2 linked regions of the Homo sapiens genome follow. The protein of the gene in region 1 purifies or fractionates together with the protein of each later gene. This does not show direct contact. Each region holds a gene or a part of one and is shown in the gene's direction. Other genes may lie near its edges.

The links.
Region 2: the proteins of CPSF3 (region 1) and WDR33 purify together in Homo sapiens (affinity purification with mass spectrometry; 5 studies listed by BioGRID and IntAct, with this or other methods). This does not show direct contact.

The regions. Positions count from the first base shown.
Region 1 is NC_000002.12:9,419,440-9,427,618, forward strand, and holds the start of CPSF3 (cleavage and polyadenylation specificity factor subunit 3), read left to right. Parts: upstream 1-4,214; 5' UTR 4,215-4,334; coding exon 4,335-4,384; exon of another isoform or gene 4,385-4,776; coding exon of another isoform or gene 4,777-4,796; exon of another isoform or gene 4,797-5,521; intron 5,522-7,093; exon of another isoform or gene 7,094-7,121; coding exon of another isoform or gene 7,122-7,183; intron 7,184-8,179. UniProt on the Homo sapiens protein: Component of the cleavage and polyadenylation specificity factor (CPSF) complex that plays a key role in pre-mRNA 3'-end formation, recognizing the AAUAAA signal sequence and interacting with poly(A) polymerase and other factors to bring about cleavage and poly(A) addition.
Region 2 is NC_000002.12:127,800,458-127,808,422, reverse strand, and holds part of WDR33 (pre-mRNA 3' end processing protein WDR33), read left to right. Parts: intron 1-7,965. UniProt on the Homo sapiens protein: Essential for both cleavage and polyadenylation of pre-mRNA 3' ends.

The DNA.
Region 1 (8,179 bases):
TCTCAGAAATGTGCATTTTTCTTGAAGTTTTGAAATACCTTTAAGTAAAAGCTGACACAAAGACATTCCCAGGTGCCAGCACCTCACCTCCCCTCTCTATTAAGCGTAGTTAAGGAGATGACCTTGCCTCCCAGAGTCTGTGTTACATATTTCTTTTTTTGAAATTAATAATAATAAATGCATTGGAAACTAAGATTCATCCTTGCCAGTTGCATAAGGACAGCATATACTATACTTGGCAAATTAACTAACCTACATGAAGCTGCACAGCTCACAGAACTCCCGGGACAGTTCTACTGTCATAGCCTCATGATAACCTTGTGACATATCCATTTGCTCTACTGATGCTTTTTAAGGGCATACCATATGCCACACACTCTGCAGGGCTCTAAGCTCTCCCTCAAGGGGCTCACAGAAGGTGGGCTGTAATCTGCCTTTTACAGATGAGGGAACTGTGACCTGCCTCTCAAGACGATTTATGAATAAGATAACCTGATCAATTTTTTACCAAAAACTGTATTCTCCAGAGAGAACAAGAAAATCTGCTTACTATAGAATTGAACACTATTTGACTGTCTTCAAAGGTCCCACATACAGCGGTCTGCACAGAGAGTTTCCTTTCATTCTGACCTGGGTGATGCTTTTCAGAGAAACTACGCACCTGATGAAGGAAAAAGAACGAGCAACTCACGCAGCAGTCAGTGAAAGCTCCTGCTGCAACCCAAAGATTCTCCGTATTTGGAGACCCCACTCTAAGTCCACTTACTAGGGGACGACATTAGGCCACTTGCCCAAGTCTGACCACTGAGCCCAAGCTTTTTAATCAGCCTCATCATCCAATTTACTTCTATATTTTTGCTTTATTTGTGGGGTACCAGGAAAATCTGATTTATTCATTCATTCCTGGATAGTCAGTGAGCACCTACCAGGTGTCGGGGATGCATCAGTGAACCAAACAGAGCCCCTGACCTCAGGGAGCCTGTTCTTAGCGAGAGTAGACAGACCAACAAGAAAAACACACATGAAACATATTATTAGGAAACCACTGCTATGAGGAAAACTAACACAAGTTGAGGAGACACAGACTAATGGAAGGAAGGGGTGGGTATTTCAGAAAAAGATGCTGTAGCTCTTTTTCTGAAAGAAGTGCGGGCAGCCATAAATAGCCTGGAGGCAATGCCGTGCGGGTGGAGAGGGGCCCGAGGGAACAGTCAAGGCTGTCCGGGAGCAGGAGGACAGCAATGGGCCCAAAGTGCCACAGAAGGCCAGGCAGGCCGCGGTAACAGTGGACTTTAGTTTAAGAGGAATACTCTGAAGGCTTTTTATTTATTTTTTGCTTATCTGCTGTGATCTTCTGGAATGGAGGCTTTTAAAAAGCAGTTTAGCGACACAATCAGGTGTCTTCTGTTTTTTAAACGATGACCCTGGCTGCCAGATAGCGAACTAACTCCACTGGATAAGGGTAAAAAGTGAGAGATGTGTTGGAAGAAGACTGCGGGTGATTGCTGCAAAGGGGAACCTTACCAGCACAGGACACTTGTCAGTGAGAGATGGCAGGAGAGCCTTATTCCAAGGCCTGCACGAAACTAGGTTAACGTAGCAGCATAAAGTGCCATGTTAATGGCGCTCACGGGTTAAAATGTTGATGTGTAACATATTTAAACATCAGATACTTAAGTATATATAAATACATATTTATATATAGGTAACAATTTTAAATATGATTTGAATTTTAAATCAAAACTTATTTTAAAAACAAAATGTGATTCTACTGTCAGTGGAATCCTGAAGTGTCTCCTCAAATCCCTTGATATGAAAATCATGACACGACAATGCCTTAGCAACTCCTTAAGGCTTTCTTTTCATCATCAACCCAGCGGCTTAGGAAAAAGCAGCATTTATTAAAGTCTTTGATATCTGCTGCAATTTTGATGCATGTTCTCAAGCAAATCATTCTTGCCTCAAAATTATTCATGGGTGGCTCACGCCTGTAATCCCAGCACTTTGGGAGGCCAAGTCGGGCGGATCACGAGGTCAGGAGATCGAGACCATCCTGGCTAACATGGTGAAACCCCGTCTCTACTAAAAATACAAAAAATTGGCTGTGCGTGGTGGTGGGCGCCTGTAGTCCCAGCTACTCAGGAGCCTGAGGCAGGAGAATGGCGTGAACCCGGGAGGCGGAGCTTGCAGTGAGCCGAGATCGCGCCACTGCACTCCAGCCTGGACGAAAGAGCGAGACTCCGTCTCAAAAAAAAAAAAAAAAAATTATTCATGCATCAAAATGAGGCCAATGATCCTGATTGGCGATTGGATGCTCCGCAGGCTCATCAAATGCAAAGATGTCTCAAGCTGAACCCATCATCCTCCCCTCCAGATCTGCTCCTCTCCTCTCCTCTCCCTGTCAGGAGATTCTATTATTGCTGGAGGAAGCCAGAAAATCATGATTTCCTTGCTGTCCTTCAGGCCCCACATCCAATCTGGCACCAAGACCCACTGTATACCCCACCTGAAGAGCTCTCTGAGCCAGCTCTCCACCAGGGCCCCCGTCATCCTAAACCATGGGCACAGACACTATTTTTTTAGAAACTGATGAATGTGATGGATCCTCACCCTATAAAAATGCACATCCATACAAAGTTTGGCATGAATTTAAGGAATTCACAAACCCAAGGATATTTCGTGGATAAGGGACCTTGTCCTACTGGATTCCCTAACACTTTAAATCTACCCCCACACTGCAGCCAAAACGATTAAAATGATTTCTTTCAAACATGAATCTAATGCCACTAGCCTGCTGAAAATCTTTCACTGGTTCTCCAAAGTCAGAGACCAAAGTCAACGTTCTTCAGCACGACACGCCAGGTCCTCCAGGACCCAGCTCCTAATCACCTTTCCACTTCCATCCTCCACAACCCGGGCACAGTTCATTGATCTCAGCAAGGCAAAGCTGCTCCTGGTTCTCAGCGCGATGCTCCACGCGCCCCTGCTTTGCACCGCCCGGGACGTCCTTCACCTGTCAGGCACTTGGCTACTTCTTACCTTTCAAGGCCCGTTTCAGGCTGCAGGCCTTCCTGGGATCTCAAGGCTGGGGTAAGGGACCCACAGCTTGAGTGTACCCCCTGATCACAGCGCCACGATCTGCTGTGGTCTCTGATCTCACTCTCCCAGCTGCACGCTGGTCAAAGGCGGAGCTCGGTGACTCCTCTGCATTGCCAGGGCGCCTGGCAGGGGACGCGCTTACTGAAGCCGAGAACTTTCTGGGGAGGTGACACCCCAACAGCGATTCCCATGTACCAAACGCCTACCACGTGCCATGCACGGTGCTAGGTGCACAGATCCCTCTCACCCTCACCCTCACCGACCAGCAAGGCTGCAGGATAACAGCCCCTTTCAAACGAGGATGCCAAAGCGCCCGAAGAGTCAGTGACCTGCCCAGGGTCACCAGAGTAAGGACGGATGCGGCCAAGCTCGGGGCCTAGGGAGAGCCGGCTCCGAAGTTCCTCCCAGACGCCAGCCTGCTTGGCACCTGTCTGTCACCGTGATGGAGCACCTTCCAAGCGCTGGGTGCGGAGGATGTGACAGCGAAGGGGACAGACAACCCCGACCCTGAGAGGCGGGAGGCGGCCGAAGCGGGGCAGAGGAAGAGGCAAGGAAACGGCCCGCGGCCGCCCGCCTTGCCGCCCCTCCGGGGCGACAGCGGCTCGGGAAGCTGCAGTCCGCAAGCCCACGCCCGATCTGCGTGGTTCCAAGCTCCTCCACCCGCGCCCCGGGAGCGCGGCCCCGCCCGGAACCAAGCCCGAGCCCAGGCATCCCTCCTCCGCCCGCCCCGCGGCCCCACCCATCCTTCCTGGCCGTCCGCGCCGCTCTCGGGACCGTGTTCCCGTCAGGCCTCCGCGAGCTCGGCCCCAAGCGGGACGAGGGCTGGGCGCTCACCTCGCAGCCGCGGGCCCATCCCCGGGTTGCGGACTTCGGGGTCCGCGTGGGAGTGCCGCGGCCTTTGGCGCCCAGGCAGCTACTCCCGTTCCCGCTCCAGCGCCGGCTTTTCCAGCCCTCCTGCCCACGTCCGCCGGGCCGCGCCTCCAAGACTATGCGCAGGCGCAGTCCTGACGTCCTACCCCCGGTTCCAAGACCCCAAGTGGTGGGAAGCCTCGCGAGCGGCGTCCCCCGACCGGAAGTCGAGGGGAGGAGTCTAGTGCCGCGGGCTCCGGAGTGACGGAAGTTGTGCTCTTGGTGAATGGGGTTCTTCCTTTTTTATTTACCGGTGGCTGTGCTTCCAATTTAGGAAGACCCCGGCGACCTGTTCCTCACCCCCGCTTCGCCCTCACACTTTCGGGATGTCTGCGATTCCTGCTGAGGAGAGCGACCAGCTGCTGATCCGACCCCTGTAAGGGACCAGCGAGAGAGGGAATGAAGCCACGGGCTGTGAGGGGCGCGAGGGGTAACCGGAGACTGGCCTCCTCCGTCGCCCGCGCTCCCACCTACCCCGGCAGCCTGCCTTTGGTCCGCGCTTGCGGGCCAGGCTTCTCAGGCTCGAGGGGTTGGAGGACCGTTGATCGGAAGGGGCCTGCTATAGAGTGAACGGGATTTTGCTTTTTCATCAGTTTCAGGGGAGGGTATGTTGGAGTCGGAAAAAAAAAAGTTTTACGGGGCCACCGCTCGCTTTCGTACACGCTAAGAAGCGTTTTCACTTAGCACAAGCACGGATCTCTGCGCGTCAGGGCAAGCTGTGAGGGAGCCGGTGAAGCTTATGACCGACAGGATGAGAGGAGGACCTGAATGAGGCTACAGCCGTGCAGGGAAGAATTAAGTCTGTTTCTTAACACCAGGGCTTCACATGTGCCAGAAGTTAGAAAATATTAGGGACTTGCCGTGAGTTTCGATCTTCTCAGCTCAGGCCCTAGTAGAATAAGGAAGGTGTAAAGCTGGAGAAGAGAAAGTGCAGAGGTGTTAGGGACAAAAACTCAGCCCTCGACTGTCCATAAGGAGAGTGGCCTTTCAGTGGACACGATCCTCATCAGTCGGGAATGCTGCTGAAGGGGAGATGCAAATGTAGAGAACTTGAATTCCTACAGATGAGCATTTCGAACCCACAACATGTTTATTGTTAGATACTAGTTGGCACAACATGAATATACGCTTTCCAAAAGGTAGAAAGTATCTCCTTTACACAATCATTCAGTAAGGCTTCATTGAGCACCTGCTTGGGACATAGTCCGTTTCCTTCTGCTTAGTTCACACCTGTCATGTCTTCCTGTGATGAGCAAACACTGAGCAAGTGTCAAGCACCACACATGGGGATATAGACGCAACAGAGGGCCCAGTTAATTGCTCTCGCTCTTTTGGAGAGAATTACAGTGCACAGTGGGAAATATTGGAGAGATACTTTGGAATAATAGGAGACTATTACTTTGAAGTCAGACCTGAAGTCCATTATCTACTTGACCAATTAGTAGGACAACAATCTCACTGAACCCGTTTTCTCATATGGAAATAAGATAAAACTTGAAGAGTGAACATCGCGGTAGGTGCTTTGTAAATAATAGCTAATCTAAGAACGCAGGCAGGCATTGCACTGAGCACTGTGAAAGTATGGAAAAGGGATTTCTGACAGATTGAGGAAAAAAGGATACCTCGTGGATCCTGAAAAATGTGATGCCTGAGCTGAGTCCTAAAGAATGAGTAGGAGTTAAAGACTGGGGGGCCCAGGATGTTCTAGGCAGTGGAAGTGGCACATATGAAAGTGAGAGTGGTCACAGCTTGTGGCCAGATTCCTCATGGCTGTAGCTAAAGAGTTGAGTTAGCAGATGAAGCGACAGGCAGTTGAGGTCCAGTTTAGGAAGCACCTCGTATACACAGGAGTTTGGACCTTTATCAAGTCAATTACAGGGAGCCAGCGAAGGCTATTAAGCAAGCATGGATATTGTGGGAATTATGTTTTAGGAAAATCTCTCCTGGCAGCAGTGTAGCAGATGAATAAAAGCATGGATGAATAAAAGCATGGATTGAGTAGAGCAGATTCAGTGAGATATTGAAAGATTCTAAGTCTAGCTGACGAGAGCCTGTAGTGAGTGATGTGAGTGTGAGAGAGTATGCAAATGAGATCTTCAGGATTTTGTGGCTGATCAGCTGTATCTGGAAGGGTGGTTGTGGGGAGGGAAGGCAGGGCAGAGAGGATGTTATGATCAGATTCCTAAGTTTGGCAGTTGGGAAAGGGTAGTGTTATTCACTCAAGGAGTATAAGAGATGGGGCAACTCTGGAGTAAATTTGGGAATTTGGTTGTTTCGTAACAGCTTTATTGAGATACAGTTTACATACCATACAACTCACAATTTACATACCATACAACTCATTTAAAGAGTATAATTCAGTCGTTCTTAACATAGAGTTATACAACCATCACCTCTCTCTAATTCCAGCACATTTTCATCACTCCCAAGAGATACCTTGTATTCATTAGCAGTCATAGACAATCCCCACTACCTCTCCAGCCCTAAGCAACCACTAATCTACTTCTTTATAGATTTGCCTGTTCTGGACATTTCATGTAAGTGTGATCATACAATACATACTCTTTTGTCTCTGGCATCTTTCATTTAGCATAATCTTTCCAAGGTTCAAAATTGAGGAGTTTTGTTCATTCAATAAGTATTTTTTGTGATGTGCTACATGCCAGGTACTGTAGCAATACAGCAGTGAATAAGATGGACAATGCCTCTGTTCTTAGGAAGCTTTCATTTAGTAGCCTGAAAGAAGACATAAGTAGGTACAATAACTTCATGTAGTTGTATTAAGATAACTGATGCTGGGTTGTGGCTTGCTGTGAAGGGCAAATTAGAGGAGGTAGTCAAGGGAAAGCATCTGAGAAGGTGACGTTGGAACTGAGACCCAAATGATACAAAGGAGCCAACCACATCAATATCTGAAGACAAAGCATTTCAGGAAGAAAGTAGAGCAAGTACGGGGCATGTGGTGGAAACTAGTTTGGCATCTTGAATATGAAGTCCCGGGAGAGATCCTAGTAGAGATACCTAGTGTCACGTGTATGTATTAAAGGTCTAGAATTCAGAAGAACAATCTGGGTTACAAATACAGGCTTGGAAGTCCTTAGCATGTCAGAAAGATGAGAATGAAGATTGAGAAGTTGGCCAAGGAGCAAACCCTCGGAATATCAACATTTAAAGGGTAGGCAGAGGTGGCTGAATATGTGAAGGAAACAGGAAAGCCAGCAAGACAAGATGAGAGCATCAGGTCAGAGAAGCCAAGGGAGAGGTGCTTGAGGAAGGAGCAGGTACTCCTTAGGAGTGACAACGGCTGCCAAGAGAACAAGATAGGGACTGACACCTATAGTTCCAGCTACTTGGGAGGCTGAGGCGGGAGGATCACTTGAGCCCAGGAGTTGAAGGCCAGACTGGGCAACATAGGGGGACCTTGTCTCAAAAAAAAAAAAAAGACTGAAATGACTACTGAGCAGCAAGGACAGTTTCAGAAAAGTGATTGGTAAAAGCCAGAGTATAGCGAATTGAGGAGCGAGTAGAAGGTGAGGAAGTACAAGAGGGTCCACTGCCCTGGGAGGTGGTCTGGGGAAAGAATAAAGTGGGAACTAAAGGAGCTTAGAGTCAAGGGATTTTAATTTGGGGATGAACATGGCTGTAGTATGTTTAAATTTGGATTGGATGGTAAAGAGCAGACAGTGAGGAAAATGTCAATGACACAGCAGTGTTGAGTTCCTCAGAAGGAGGGAGGGAGTACGTAGAGTAGAATGGTGGAAAGTTTCATTGTGGAAAGAGAGGTCTATTCTATCTATAGAGGAGAAATAGAAGGAGACAGATGTGGGCAGGTTGGTACCCTGTTGGTACATGTATTCTTAATTATTGTACCAACATGAAGTTGAGGAAATTTACAAATGGACTGTTTATTTTTTTGATGCAGAAGATGGCCCATGCCTCAAGTGAAGAAGAGGATAGAAGGTTGGAAAATTTGGGAAAGGGAAGAAAGTTTGAAAATAGTTGATATGGAAATGAAATGGAGAAAACAGCCAGGCAACATTGAGGGCCAGTTAAAGTGGAAGGCCAGGGTATCCACAATAATTACAAATAAAAAATGTTTAAAAAGTGGAAGGCCAGGAATTTATGGCGGCTCTCATCCACAGTTGTTTGATCTTCTGTATCAACACCTGTT
Region 2 (7,965 bases), about 120 Mb from region 1:
ATTTGTGTGCTTATAAATTCCCAGAGCTAGGTAGTATTGGAAAGGGCATGTATGGGTTTCAGCAGCAAATGGACCTAGGTTTGAATGCCAGGCTCACCATTAACTACCTTTTTTATATTGGGTCAGTTAATTAAACTCTCTAAGCTTCAGTTTCTTTGTATATAAGAATGTTAACTATAAAACCTAAAGGTAAAAAGTGCCTCATATATAGTAGGCATTCTTTAAATGTTAACATTTTTTTTCTTTCTGTGATGAATTTAATTGGTGACATCATTTTCAGTTTTAAACATTAACTCAAATATCTTTGTTGAAATTTACTGACAATCTCATTCCTCTGATAAGTTAATCACTCCTTTCTCTGCTATTAAAGCATTTTGTATATATCTTTAATGTATTTTGACTATACCTTCTCCACTACTTGTGAATACTTTGGTTTTTAGTTTGTTTGTTTGTTTTCTGAGACAGGGTCTCACTTTGTCACCCAGGCTGGAATACAGTGGCATGATCATGGCTCACTGTAGCCTCTAATTCCTAGGCTCAAGCGATCCTCCCACTTCAGCCTTTCAAAGTCTTGGGAGTCATGAGTCCCTGCTGCCAGCTCTTTGTGAGCACGTTGAAGACGTGCTATAGTACCTTATATTTTTGTATTCCTAAAACCTAGGCATTATACAAATTGAAGAATGAATTTTCTACAAAAATTCCCCTCATGACTTGGTTTATTTCTGATCTTTGGCTGTTGCTTATTAACTCTTTGCCTAGATTGTATTCTCCTTCCTTTCACACTATTCCTATTCTGTTCAGTCCTTAAAATCCAGCTAAATCCAATTAATGAGGTCTTCAGTGACTCTCATTTATTCATAACTTGTTTAGTTAGTCTAGTGTCTGTGTGACTGCCTTCTGTTACTTTGTGTCCCATTAGTACCTGCCTCTATGCCTTACCATTTTGAGCAGATCCTTGAGTGGGATGATACGTGCAAAACTGTGCTTTAGGCAGTTTGTTGTTATAGGCACCTGCTCTCTACTCTGTTTGCTCTCAACTTAGTAGGTGGAGCAGCAATTTTCCTTTTTTGGTATATGGAATATTCTGGTAACTTTTTTGCAACTTTAAGAAATTTCAAGCCAGGTGCAGTGGCTCACATCTGTAATCCCAGCACTTTGGGAGGCCGAGGCAGGTGGATCACCTGAGGTCAGGAGTTCAAGACCAGCCTGGCCAACATGGTGAAACCCCATCCCTACTAAATACAAAAAAAATTAGCTGGGCGTGGTGGCACATTCCTGTAATCCCAGCTACTTGGGAAGCTGAGGCAAGAGAATTGCTTCAACCTTGGAGGCGGAGGTTGCAGTGAGCTGAGATTGCGCATTGTACTTCAGCCTGGGCAACAAGAGTGAAATGCCGTCTTAAAAAAAAAAATTTCAAACATGCAGCAAAGGTGAAAGAATACTACAGTGAACACCCATATGCCTTCTGTTTGGATTCGACTGTTAACCAACATTTAACCATTTTGCTTTAACTCTATATCCTCCCTTTCTTGAATGATTTGAAATTAAATTGCAGATATACTGCTTTTCCCTGTAATACCTCAGGATGCATGTCTTTGAAATAATGCTTTTTCCTACGCTTTTCTACATTTTTATTTCAAGCCAGTCTCCAGCTGAAAACATATAAAATCATTATCATACCTAAGGCAATTAGCATGAAATCTTTAGCATCATCTTTTTTTTTTTTTCGAATGAGTTGGTGTAGTTCTATTTTTTTTTGGCTTTGTTCCACAGTTGTTGAAGAGTTGGTTTAATTCTAGGTTACACAGAGTTTAGGGTAGAACAAAGACCAAAGAGCAGTCTCTGGCAAGATTCTGGGCTGGTTTTACTTTAAATTCATAGCTAAGGCAGGAATGGAGTGAAAACAACTAAAGAGAGGCCGGGCGCAGTGGCTCACGCCTGTAATCCCAGCACTTGGGAGGCTGAGGTGAGCAGATCACCTGAGGTCAGGAGTTTGAGACCAGCCTGGCCAACATTGTGTAACCTCGTCTCTACTAAAAATACAAAAATTAGCCGGGTGTGGTTGCGCATGCCTGTAGTCCCAGCTACTCGGGAGACTGAGGCATGAGAATCGCTTGAACCCAGGAGGTGGAGGTTGTAGTGAGCTGAAATTGTGCCACTGCACTGCAGCCAGGGCAACAGAGCGAGACTGTCTCAAAAAAAAAAAAAAAAAGAAAAAGAAAAACAACTAAAGAGATGATGAGCCACTGTAAGCATTTTAATTTATTTTATTAATATTTTTTATTTAAAATTTTAAAATTTTGTTTATTTTGAGACAGGGTCTTACTTTGTCATCCAGGTTGGAGTGCAGTGGCACAATCACAGCTCACTGCAGCCTCAACCTCCCAGCTCAAGCAATCTGCCCACCTTGGCCTCACAAAGTGCTAGGATTACAGGTGTGAGCCACCACACCTGCGGTTTTTTTTTTTTTTTTAAACAAAAGTTTATTCTTTAATGTGCAGTAGACTCCAGCTTCAAGACGACACTTCATTCCAGCTATAGGTGGCAACAGATATTATGGCAGGGAATACAGATGTTTAAATACGAATGAAATCAAGGGTCACCATTGCTTCAGGCACAGGGCACAGCTTACTTTCTGCCAGATTTTTAAATTCCACCTGTGGCCGGAGCCCCTTCCAGGAGGCTTTCGCTTTTAGCTCCTTGTGTTTCTTTCGTTCCTTTTCTTGTTTCTGCTTGAAAGCCTTATTCATCTTCTTGGCCTGCTTTTTGGGCAGTTTCAAAGGGTTCTTCTTGCCACCTTTGAGGCCGGACCTGGCACCTGCTGCCCCTTCCTGACTCTGTCACCACAAACAGCTAGCCTCATCTTTTTAAAGAACGTTCCATATTTTGGAATTTCTTATTGTATGCTTAAAATGTCATGTATTTTGTTTCTCAATTCCTGTTGTTTCTCTATTCCTTTTATTTCCTGTAAACTAGAAGTTAGATCTAGAGAGGTTTGACTAAATTTGGGTCAAATATTTTTGGCAAAAATACTTCATAGAGGCCAGGTGCGCTGGCTCATGTCTGTAATCCCAGCACTTTGAGAGGCTGAGGCAGATGGATTGCTAGAGCCCAGGAGTTCAAGACCAGCCTGGACAATTTGGCAAAACCCTGTCTCTATTTTAAAAAAAGAAAAAAAAATGCTGGGTTTGGTGGCCTGCGCCTGTAGTCCCAGCTACTTGGGAGGTTGAGACAGGAGGATGGCTTGAGCCAGAGAGGTGGAGGCTGCAGTGAGCCGACATCCTGCTGCTGTACTCCAGCCTAGGCGACAAGAGAACCCTGTCTCAAAAAAAAAAAAAAAAAAAAAAAAAAAAAGAAAAAACTTCACAGGTGATGATACGTGATTTATGTTGTGAGGATATACTTCTAGCTATGAGCCTTCAATAAGGTGGTAGGGACTGCCAGATGTTAGCTTGCGTTATTTACAATGCCAAATTTACCTGGTTAATGTGTCCATTGGATTTCTTCATCAAAGAGGTATATTTTTCCCTTTGCAGTTATACTTGATCTGTGGGGTGATAACTTTAGCATCATGTGAGTACCTCACTTCTCAAAATATTTTTCACTTAATGATTGATGATTATTAGCTGAGTCATTTATTGGGGGTTTTCTAATTTTGTTATTTGTTTATATTCATTAACTGTTTTCTGTAATAAAGAGCTTTTGCTTTCCCCCTTTCGTGTTTAAATGTTTAAATTTTGAAATAAATATGAACTAACAGAAGAGTTGGAAGAATAGTTCAAAGAACTCCTATGTACTTTTTATTCTGATTCACCCATTTTTAACATTTTGTCACATTTGCTTTATTCCTCCCTTCCTGCCTCCCAGCCCCTCATGTATTATTTTCGGAGCCATTTAGTGTTATTCACAGATATGCACTTCTCCGCACTTCTCTGCTCAAGAACAAGTTAAGTACCCGCAATATTAACTAATTCTGGACATTGAACATTTATATAGTATTGAAAATTCATACTCAAATTTCTCTAGTTGTCTCAGTAACATCTCACAGAATTTTTCTTTCTCTAATCCAGTATCCAATCTAGATATTTCTTTTCTTTTTTTATTTATTTTTTGAGACAGAGTCTCGCTCTGTCTCCCAGGCTGGGATGATCTTGGCTCACTGCAAGCTCCGCCTCCCGGGTTCACGCCATTCTCCTGCCTCAACCTCCCGAGTAGCTGGGACTACAGGCGCCCGCCACCATGCCTGGCTAATTTTTTGTATTTTTAGTAGAGACAGGGTTTCACCGTGTTAGCCAGGATGGTCTCGATCTCCTGACCTTGTGATCCACCCTCCTCGGCCTCCCAAAGTGCTGGGATTACGGGTGTGAGCCACCGCACCCGGTCCCAATCTAGATATTTCGTATCTCTTTAGTCTTTAAGCAGGAGCAGGTATTTGGCCCTTATTGCTTTTGGTCTTTTTTTTTTTTTTTTTTTTTGAGACTGGGTCTCACTTCGTTGCCCAGGCTAGAGTGCAGTGGCAAGATCATAGCTGCCTGCAGCCTGGAACTCCTGGGCTCAAGTGATTCTCCTACCTCAGTCTCCCAAGCACCTGGCACTAACCCCAGTTAATTTGAGGGCTCCTTTGCTTTTTTGGCAAAACAATAACCCAAGTCCTTCTTGTCTTTTCCTTTCCTTTTGTATCTTCCCATTTCTCCAAGGAGTCCCAGTTCTTTTGGTAGAAAATATTATTTATAAACCAGGATTTGGATGCTTGGTGGTGTATGCATTTGCTTGTATGCCCTTTTCAGTGGACAGAGCTAGAAAACATGATATTAAAAATCATCAGCTTACATTGGTATTTTATTTTATTTATTTTTTGAGACAGTCTCCCTCTGTCACCTAGGCTGGAGTGCAGTTGTGCAATCTTGGCTCATTGCAACCTCTGCCTCCTGGGTTGAAGCGATTCTTGTGCCTCAGCCTCCCGAGCAGCTAGGATTACAGGCGTCTGGCTAATTTTTGTATTTTTAGTAGAGATGGGGTTTTACCATATTGGCCAGGCTGGTCTCGAACCCCTGGCCTTAAGTGATCCGCTCACTTTGGCCTCTCAAAGTGTTGGGATTACAGACGTGAGCCACTGTGCCTGGCCTACATTGGTATTTTAAATTCCTAATCAAAGTTAACATTAGTGGCATTTTCTACACAGAAAACAGAGTCAGATTTATAATGCCAGTATTTTACTAACAATAACCCTACCAAGTGCAGTTTTTTTTCCAGTCCTTTTTTTTCTTAGCGTATACTGCATTAAAGATGAACTTTCTTCAAAAGTTACTTGAAATAACATTTTTCAGCTTGTTTGTTGAATTTGTTTATTTTGATTATCAAATTTCACAGTTTTTGTTTGTATTCATTATTAGGGTTTGCTTTTTCTCCCTCTTAATTTAGTTTTTTTGTTTGTTTGTTTTTGAGACAAGATCTCAATCTGTTACCTAGGCTGGAGTGTAGTGGTGCAGTTTTGGCTCCCTGTAGCCTCAACCTCGCAGGTTTGGGTGATCCTCCCACCTCAGCCTCCCAAGTAGCTGGAACGACAAGTGCGCACCACCATGCCTGGCTAATTTTTTGTGTTTTTTGGTATAGTCTGGGTTTTGCCATGTTGCCCAGTCTGGGCTCGAACTCCTGGGGTCATCGGTTCCTCCCTCCTCAGCCTCCCAAAATACTAGGATTACAAGGCATGAGCCACTGCACCCAGACGTAATTTAGTTTTTTTAATACGTTATTTACATGGTTTAAAATCTACTGAAAAAAAATTTTTAAGCACCTGTGACCAAGAAGGAATAAAATTAAATACTATATTGAAAAAGTACTGGCTGGGCGTGGTGGCTCACATCTGTAATCCCAGCACTTTGGGAGGCCGAGGGGGGCAGATCACCTGGGGTCAGGAGTTTGAGACCAGCCTGGCCAACATGGTGAAACCCCATCTCTACTAAAAATACAAAAATTAGCCAGGCGTGGTGGCACATGCCTGTAATCCCAGCTACTCTGAAGGATGAGGCAGGAGAATTGCTTGCACCCAGGAGACGGAGGCTGAAGAAAAAGTAGTTAAGTCTTGCTTCTGTCTCTGAGCTCTGGAGTTCATTCCAGTTTTTACTGTGTATATTCTTATTTTCACATTCTTAGAAGAAAGTTGGCATGCTGTATATGCTTGTGACACTTGATTTTTTTTTTTATAAATTGTGATAAATGCATAGCAAAATTTTACTGTCTTAATTTTTTTTTTTTGAGTCGGAGTCTTGCTCTCTCCTCCAGGCTGGAGTGCAGTGGCGTGATCTCAGCTCACTCCTGGGTTCAAGTGATTCTCCTGCCTCAGCCTCCTGAGTAGCTGGGACTACAGGTGCATGCCACCACACCTGGCTAATTTTTGTATTTTTAGTAGAGACGGGGTTTTACCATGTTGGCCAGGGTGGTCTGGAATTCCTGACCTCAAGTGATCTGCCTGCCTCAGCCTCCCAAAGTGCTGGGATTACAAGCAGGAGCCACTGTGCCTGGCCTTAACCATTTTTTTTGAGATGGAGTCTCACTGTATCACCCAGGCAGGAGTGCAGTGGCACGATCTCGGCTCACTGCAGCATCCGTCTCCTGGGTTCAAACAATTATCCTGCCTCAGTCTCCCGAGTAGCTGGCACTACAGGTGTGCACCACCACGCCCAGCTAATTTTTTGTATTTTTAGTAGAGATGGGATTTCACCATGTTGGCTAGGCTGGTCTTGAACTCCTAACCTCAAGTGATGCACATGCCTCCGCTCCACAAAGTCCTGAGATAGGCATGAACCACTGCACCTGGCTCATAATGTAATTCTGTTTTTAACATTTTTGAAGAACCTCTATACTGTTTTTCATAGTGATTGTACTGTTTTTTTTTTTTTTGTTGTGTGTTTTTTGTTTGTTTGTTTGTTTTTTAGAGACAGAGTCTCACTGTGTTGCTCAGGCTGGTCTTCGCCTCAAAGTGATCCTCCCACCATGGCCTCCCAAAGTGCTAGGATTACAGGTGTGAGCCACCATGCCCAGCCTCATTGTACCATTTTACAGTCAGTACACAATGGTTCCAATTTCTTCATGTTCTTACCAACAGTTATTATTTTCTGTGTCTGTGTGTGTTTTTCCTCTGAGAAAAGGTCTCCTTCTGTTACCCCTGCTGGAGTACAGTGGTATAATCATAGCTCACTGTGCCTCAACGTCCCGGGCTCAAGCAAACCTCCTGCCTTAGCCTCCCGAGCGGCTGGGACAACAGGTGTATGTCACCATGCCTGGCTAATTTTGTTTTTCTTTTCTTTTTTTTTTTTTTCCTAGAGACAGGGTCTCACTATGTTGTCTGTCCTGGCTGGTCTCAAACTCCTGGGCTCCATCTTCCCACTTCGGCTTCCTGAAGTGCTGAGATTACAATAGGCATGAGCCACTATGCCCATCCTAAAGTTTTACAGCCCAATAATAGTAATATTCCATCACTACAGCTATCATTGAGTTTCAGAAGTTAGACTGTTAAAAGTTTCAGTAAAGAGCTTTAACCAGTTTATTGTGGCAATACTGTGTACACAATTATTTTTTGTAAAAGGAAGGAGATTTCTGTCTTAAATAGCTTTAATAAAGTTTCAGTTTCATATACAGGAATAGATTTAAATTAAAACTCAGGGCCAAGTACAGTTTACAGAAATAGGCTTTGTAAAGTCTATGGTTTTATTATTATTTTTTTCCCTCTGCAATTCCTTCATAACATTTGAATTTTTTTGCTTGTTGGTTTTTTTTTTTTTTTTTTGAGACGGAGTCTCATTATGTTGCCCAGGCTGGAGTGCAGTGATGCGATCTCAGCTCACTGCAAGCTCCGACTCCTGGGTTCATGCCATTCTCCTGCCTCAGCCTCTCGAGTAGTTGGGACTACAGGCGCCCTCCACCACGCCTGGCTAATTTTTTTGAATTTTTTTAACAGAGACGGGG